Linked DNA regions of Homo sapiens. The main gene of each other region encodes a partner of the protein of the gene in region 2 in a complex. Each region holds a gene or a part of one and is shown on either strand. Other genes may lie near its edges. The genes, in order: BNIP1 and VAMP7.

The links.
Region 1: VAMP7 (region 2) and BNIP1 share a complex: the UniProt entries of both Homo sapiens proteins name them as parts of the SNARE complex.

Annotation. Positions count from the first base shown.
Region 1 is NC_000005.10:173,151,031-173,154,855, reverse strand, and holds part of BNIP1 (vesicle transport protein SEC20), read right to left. Parts: intron 3,291-3,825; coding exon of another isoform or gene 3,162-3,290; intron 535-3,161; coding exon 443-534; intron 1-442. UniProt on the Homo sapiens protein: As part of a SNARE complex may be involved in endoplasmic reticulum membranes fusion and be required for the maintenance of endoplasmic reticulum organization. Also plays a role in apoptosis.
Region 2 is NC_000023.11:155,936,575-155,940,399, reverse strand, and holds part of VAMP7 (vesicle-associated membrane protein 7), read right to left. Parts: intron 700-3,825; coding exon 607-699; intron 1-606. UniProt on the Homo sapiens protein: Involved in the targeting and/or fusion of transport vesicles to their target membrane during transport of proteins from the early endosome to the lysosome. Required for heterotypic fusion of late endosomes with lysosomes and homotypic lysosomal fusion.

The DNA.
Region 1 (3,825 bases), on a different chromosome or scaffold from region 2:
GAGAACATTCCACCAGTGTGTAACTGATGCAATTGGCTGGGCGTGGTTGCTCACACCTGTAATCCCAGCACTTTGGGAAGCCAAGGTGGGTGAATCACATGAGGCCAGTGTTAGAGACCAGCCTGGCCAACACAGCGAAACTCTGTCTCTAGTAAAAATACAAAAATTAGCCAGGCGTGATGGTGGGCGCCTGTAATCCCAGCTACTCAGGAGGCTGAGGCAGAAGAATTGCTTGAACTCGGGAGGCAGAGGTCACAGTGAGCCAAGATCAGGCCACTGCACTCCAGCCTGGGCAATAGAGCGAGACACCGTCTCTCAAAAAAAAAAAAAAGACACCATTAAGTCAGCATTAAAGCAGATCCATCAGGCAAACACACGTGCAAGGCTCACAGGCAACAAGAAGAGCCAGCAGAAGCCGCTGGCGGGGGCAGGCCCTGCCTACCTGAGCATCTGCTTTTTGTGATTCTCCACTTCCTGGAGTAGAAGTTGTTTCTCTGATTCTTTGTCTTGCTCTTTAGCCAACTGCTCCAGGTCCTTTGAGGAAAAATAATTCCATGTTAAAATGATTTCAAAAGTCAACATGAAAGCAGAAGAGCATTTCTATTTCTGCCAAGGGCATACAATAGCACTTGAAGCACCCTTTTAAAACAGAACACCTAGGAATGCTAGGTAACATATAACACACATCCTTTTAAATCTATAGCTAAGTCCACAAGGAAGTAAGGAAAACCCCTATGGCCCAAAAGTGGGAAGGGAACAAGAGCTGGAATAGTCAGCCTGGGAGTGATGCACGGCTGTCCTGGCGTCAGAGCTGCTGCTCCTGTCACCTAGGGCAGGCCCGAAAGGAAAAGAAAAACAATGACGAAATACAAGCACACTGATCCCCCACTTAGATATCATTAAAATATCAAACTGCTGTTCATTTCCAGATACTCACAATTTCTGTGCCTATTTAATTAAAGACGAGTAATAGGCAGTTTGAGCGCTTGAAGGTTTGAGAGCTCGTGCAGGGACAGAAAAATGAAGCCCTGAGCCATCTGAGGCTGAGGTTGAGAAGCTGAACTGAGATCACCACAAATCTAAAACCCACGAAAGGTTACAGACACAGGAAAATGGTATAAAAAAATGTCCATCTACCAGCACAGAGGGAAAACATAGATGCTTGCCTTTTTTTGCTATGAGTTCCAAATAGAGGGGTTAAAAAAAAACTCCCCTGAGAATTTATAACCAACCAGGGAGCTGCTCCTTCCACTGATCTAGGGTTCAATTTATCTTCCCTGAGTGGTTCGTGAAACTCCATGAAGAGAAATGAACATAAACAGTGTTCTCGGCCGGGCGCAGTGGCTCACGCCTGTAATCCCAGCACTTTGGGAGGCCGAGGCGGGGAGATCACGAGGTCAGGAGATCGAGACCATCCTGGCTAACATGGTGAAACCCCATCTCAACTGAAAATACAAAAAATTAGCCGGGCGTGGTGGCGGGCACCTGTAGTCCCAGCTACTCAGGAGGCTGAGGCAGGAGAATGGCGTGAACCCGGGAGGCAGAGCTTGCAGCAAGCCAAGACTGCGCCACTGCACTCCAGCCTGGGCGACAGAGAGAGACTGTCTCAAAAAAAAAAAAAATGTTGTCAGACTTGTGATCATCTCAGGAGACCTGGCGGGAAGCTAATGCAAAAACCTCTGTAGAGACTTGGCCTCGACCCAGCTGCACAAAGTCCCTCAGATAAGGTCTGCTAAGATGAGCGCTCACAGTCCAAAATAACCTAACACCAAGGAAATAACCCACTATAAGTTAGGGTCAGCAGACATACCCAGAAGTATTAAACCCCAAGAACTTCAGATAAAAGAACCATCAAGAGGGACTATAATTAAAGATAGCATTATACCAATCACATTTTTTGGTTTACAAATTAAAACAGGTTCTAGCTTCAATCACGCTATTGATCTGAAACATCAATGTATTTGCTCATTTATATACTAATTTACTGATTTACGTATCAATTTGCACATACTGGTTTGGAACAAGTTTGTGTATCCACCATTTCAATAGCACAGAGATGACTTTCAATTTATGCCTCCAAATATTGCTGAGGTAGAGAATAAAAGAAATAATCAACTGTGAATTAGAAAAGTTTTGCAAATGTCATCAATTATTTTCATAATTATTTGTTTAAAATCTGTATTCCCTATTAGAATGTAAATTCTATGGGCTGGGCCTGGTGGTTCACGCCTATAATTCCAGCACCTTGGGAGGCCAGGGCAGGCAGATTACGAGGTCAGGAGATCAAGACCATCCTGGCTAACACGGTGAAACCCCGTCTCCACTAAAAATACAAAAAATTAGCCAGGCGTGGTGGCGGGCGCCTGTAATCCCAGGTACTCGGGAGGCTGAGGCAGGAGAATGGCGTGAACCCGGGAAGTGGAGATTGCAGTGAGCCGAGATCGTGCCACTGCACTCCAGCCTGGGCAACAGAGTGAGACTCCGTCTCAAAAAAAAAAAAAAGAATGTAAATTCTATGAATAAGCAGAGCTGTATCTCACATTATTCACTACATATATTCCTTGTGCCTGGCACATACTGGGCACTGAGTCACTGAATGGAAGAATGAACGCATGGGAAAAGCGGAGGGATTAAAAAGGGGGAGAAATGTACAATTTACTCATGAAAGATTGCCTGGAAGTTCTTTCAAAGAGAACCAGTGATAGTTCTGGAGAAAGGAATGGCGGGGGAGAGCAGTCCTCAAATTCCAGTTTGAGAGCTATATGTACAAAGACAAACACACAGATATTTATACACAGTCAGTGCCCAAGATTCACCATGTGCAGAACACCCAGTTTTGAGGATATGAGGCCAGTTCTCTAGTATCACATGATCTTGTTGGAAATACACAAAAAAGACATTCAAATAAAAGCTAAAAATGGCAAACAAACAGGAATCTTGTATTTATTTCCAGATACAAAAAGAGTATGTAAATACTTAAGAAACGCAGATTAAAACTGGGATGGGGTTATTCATTTACTGGCCATGTGCTTATTAGGTCCTTCCTAGGTGCCATAATAAATATGTAAATGTACACGTATTGGTGAGGTCATTTTAATGAGTGAAGGAAATAAACACTGGGTGGGCACCCAGATGTTTAAAAAGAACATACAAATACTCACACTGAAGGTAACAGGTGTAGTTGGAGAGTTGAAGTCATGCTGAGTTGAAGAAAAGTCTGTCAGGGAATAAGTTAGCTTAAAAAAAAATGTGGAAGCAGTCCAAATAAATGCCCTTTGATAGAGAACTGGCTAAAAAAAAAAAAAAAAATGACAGTTATTTAGAAAAGAATGAGAGACCAGGTGTGGTGGCTCCTGCCTGTAATCCCAACACTTTGGAAGGCTGAGGCAGGCAATCACTTGAGTCCAGGAGTTCAAGTCCAGCCTGAGCAACATGGCAAAACCCTGTCTCTATAAAAACTACAAAAATTTGCTGGGTGTGGTGGCGCACGCCTGTAGTCCCAACTATTTGGGGGACTGAGGCAGGAGGAAAATCGCTTGAGCCTGGGAAATCAAGGCTGTGGTGAGCTGAGATTGTGCCACTGCACTCTGGCCTGGGTGACAGCCCAAGACCCTGTCTCAAAAAAAGAAAAAAAAAGAAAAATGAGGACAGTCTCTGATTACTGAAATGGAAAAATTTCCAATATACGTATAATAAAATTATACTTAACAGTATAAGTTTTGACCGGGCGCGGTGGCTCACGCCTGTAATCCCAGCACTTTGGGAGGCTGAGGCAGGCTGATCACAAAGTCAGGAGATCGAGACCAGCCTGGCTAACACGGTGAA
Region 2 (3,825 bases):
GCAGAGGACCCTCAAGCTGTGGTAGAGGAGAAGCAGGGTCAGAGTTATCTGCTTGGAGGTAACTTTGGGCTTCTGGACATGACTGGAGGATGGGGAGGAAAGGCAACTTTATCTGACCATGAACAGGGTAAAGCACCCCCCACCTGTTAGCAATAGTTTTTAAAGTTGTGGTTTAGGACCTCTTTACACACTCAAAAATTACTGAGGACTCCAAAGAGTTCTTGTTTAAGGGGGATTATAATTATCAGCATTTGCCATATTAGAAATTAAAACTTTAAAAATACATAATTAATTTAAAAATAAAAACAATAAACCCATTACATATAAACCAGAAATGTCTTTATTTAAAATAACTACATTTCTGTGAGGTCAGTTTTATAGATCTCTTCCTATTGAGAATATATAATAATTCTCAATAGGAAGGAGGGGTTTAAGTAGAGATATTTCATAGTGACTTCATAGGAAAGCCACTGCCTGGTCATGTGTTTCACTATTAAAAGACATATGTAGCTCATTTCAGAGTGTTAATCATTGAGAAATAATTCTAGTACCTAATTTCTTAGAGATTGAAAAATAAAGCCATACACTAAAAGGACAAAAACTTACAATTGATACGATGATGATGATAATAGTGAGCTTGAGGTTCTTCATACACATGGCTCGAGCAAGATTTCTGCTGGTAGTTTTGAAGGTGACAGACTAGAAAAGAGGCGAGAATTGTTTAACCCCTGGCACTGACTACATGAATGATTTGCAGTAACAACCTGAGAACATTTTACTTCCATTAATTCCATTTAAGTCCAATGACCTCTCTTTACAAGTAGAGACTGGCCATTCATACTCAATAGTTGCCAAAAGCAAGACTCTGCCAGGCCTATCATAAGCAGTATGAGCCCAATGAAAACGCTTCCCTCTTTTTTCTTCTCCACTGCAGCAATGCACATGATGTTGAGCACCAGAAGTGGTTCTTCCCGCTAGTGGAAAAGAATTTTCCTCTCTATACTTCCAATAAGAAAGGCTCTTTTAAAGCCAGCTGACTGCAAGCACATTCGCCTATTCTGCCCCGTATAATTCCGGGGCTTTGAGCCATAAAAACCTGTTTGATTTCTGTAGGAAGATATGTATTTACTTTTGTGAGGGCCAAAACCCATAGAACTTCATTCCTTCTGCTATCCATTTTCTTTTGCATCATCAATTTCTCAGTATCTACTGAACAATTCCCACCAGGACACAAGGAGTTTAAAACAAAATGGCAAACAACCAACCAACAAAACTCCCTAATAATCCAGCAATCCACTCTGGTATGGTCCCACAGATGTATGCAAATTCACCAAAAGACATATAAAAAAATGTTTTGGACAGCACTACTTTTCATACCTTAAACTGGAAACCACCCAAATGCCCATCAACTGTGCAATGCATAAATTACAGGAGAGTCATAACATGGAATACAATACAGTAATGACAATTCACAATCTACTACTACATTTATACAATTTACCACAGATGAATCTCACAAACATCATTTTGAGCAATAGAAACTTGACATAAACAGAATACCTGCTATATTTTATTATTTATCTTGAGACAGGGTCTTGCTCTGTCGCCCAAGCTGGAGTGCAGTGGCACAATTACGACTCACTGCAGCTTTGACCTCCTGGGCTCAAACGATCCTCCCACCTCAGCCTCCTGAGTAGCTGGGACTATAGGTGTGTGCCACCACTCTCGGCCCCTGCTATGTTTTATTAATCTATGTGGAGAAATCAGGACAGTGGCCACCTTTGGAGAAGAGTAGTGACTAAAAGAAGGGAGAAGGGAGCTTCTGGGGTACTGTTCGTGCTCTAGTTCTTAATCTGGGTGTTGGTTCTACATGGTATGTTTACTTTGTGAAAACACAACAAGTTGTATGCTTACAGTTGATGCACTTTATGTATATTATACTTCACATATTGGTTTTAAAAAATCCACTCCCTTAACCATAGATTCATCTCCAACCACATACTCCACAAAGTCTCTGCAGTAGAACAACTGACAGGGGCACCAGTCTTTGGGTTTCACTTCATGAAGACTGCACAGGATGCCACCTGGAGGCACATACCAAAACTGATTACATCTAGAGCTAAATATATATGTTGAATAGAATATATGCATTGACTAGAACTTTTGAGAAGAAACAGCAGTTAAAGTGAGGAGACAAAAAAAGCAATGGGGACAAACAGTCCTTAATGGAACAAAGTTAATATGGGAAACAAGATAGAATAACAGTAATAAAAAAATTTCTAATAAGTATCCTCAGATACAAGACATAATTGAACTAATTTTAAACAAAGTCATCAGAGGACATAAAAAATTAGATAACATGACAACATTCCAAAAACTATATTTTAATAAAATGGCATAATTTTTTAAAAGCAGAACATAAATGAGCAAAAGCAGCTTCTGCAGTAACAATTCAAAAAATTTGTTCTGAAAACAGCAAAATGTCTAGGTTGTAAATCATGAAAGAAGATGTAAGATACACGGAAAACTGATCAAGCAAATCCAGGATCAATTTATACGATCAACAGATATTTAACATGTGCTTATTATGTGCCTGGTACTGATTTACACACCTATTAGCAGTCACAGGAGAGAATACAGCCAAAAGAGAAGGATCAATAATCAAGGGACTAATTGAAGAAAATATCCCCCAAATAAGACAGACTTGAATCTTCAGACTAAAAGGACCTACCCACCATGTGGCAAGAATATTGAAAAAAGGAAAATGTTACACTTTTAGTAACATTTCAGACCTCCAAGCTTTTGTTTCTACTCTAATTTTATTTTTTTCTGCCTTGAAGTATAATTGGCAAATAAAAATGGTATATATTCAAGGTATACAATGTGATATTCTGATAAATGTACACATTGTGAAATTATTACCACAATCAAGCTAAGTAAAATATCCATCACCTCACATAGTTACTTTTTTGGGTATGTGGTGAGAATGCTTAAGATCTATTCTTATAGCATATTTCAAATATTCAATACATTATTATTAACTATAGTTGCCATGCTGTATGTCCGGTATCCAGAACTTATTCATCTTACAACTGTAAGTTCATACACTTTGACCAACATCTCTCCAGGTCTCCCACCCACTGTCAACCACTGTTTTACTCTCTGCTTTTATGAACTGAACATTTTTTTTAGATTCCATATATAAGTGAAATCATACAGTATTTATCTATCTGTGTCTAGTATATTTCACTTAATATAATGTCTTCTAGTTTCATCCACATTTTAGAATTTTTTTTTCTATTCTGTGAAAAATGCCATTGGAATTTCAATAGGGATTGTGTTGAATCTGTGTATTGCTTCAGGCAGTATGAACATTTTAATAATATTGATTCTTCCAATCCATAAACATAAGGTATCTTTCCATTGATTTGTGTCTTCTTGAATTTCTTTCATCAATGTTTTATAATTTTCAGTGTGCACATTATTACATCCTTGGTTAAATTTATTCCTAACTATTGTACTCTTTTTGATGCTATCATAAATGGGATTTTTAAAAAATTTCCTTTGATTCCTGTTCCAAGATGGCCAAATAGGAACAGCTCCAGTCTACAGCCCCCAGCGTGAGCAACGCACAAGACGGATGATTTCTGCATTTCCAACTGAGATACCGGCTTCATCTCACTGGGGCTTGTTGGACAGTGGGTGCAGCCCACCGAGCGTGAGCCGAAGCAGGGCGAGACATCGCCTCACCCGGGAAGCACAAGGGGTCAGGGAATTCCCTTTCCTAGCCAAGGGAAGCTGTGACAGATGGCACCTGGAAAATCG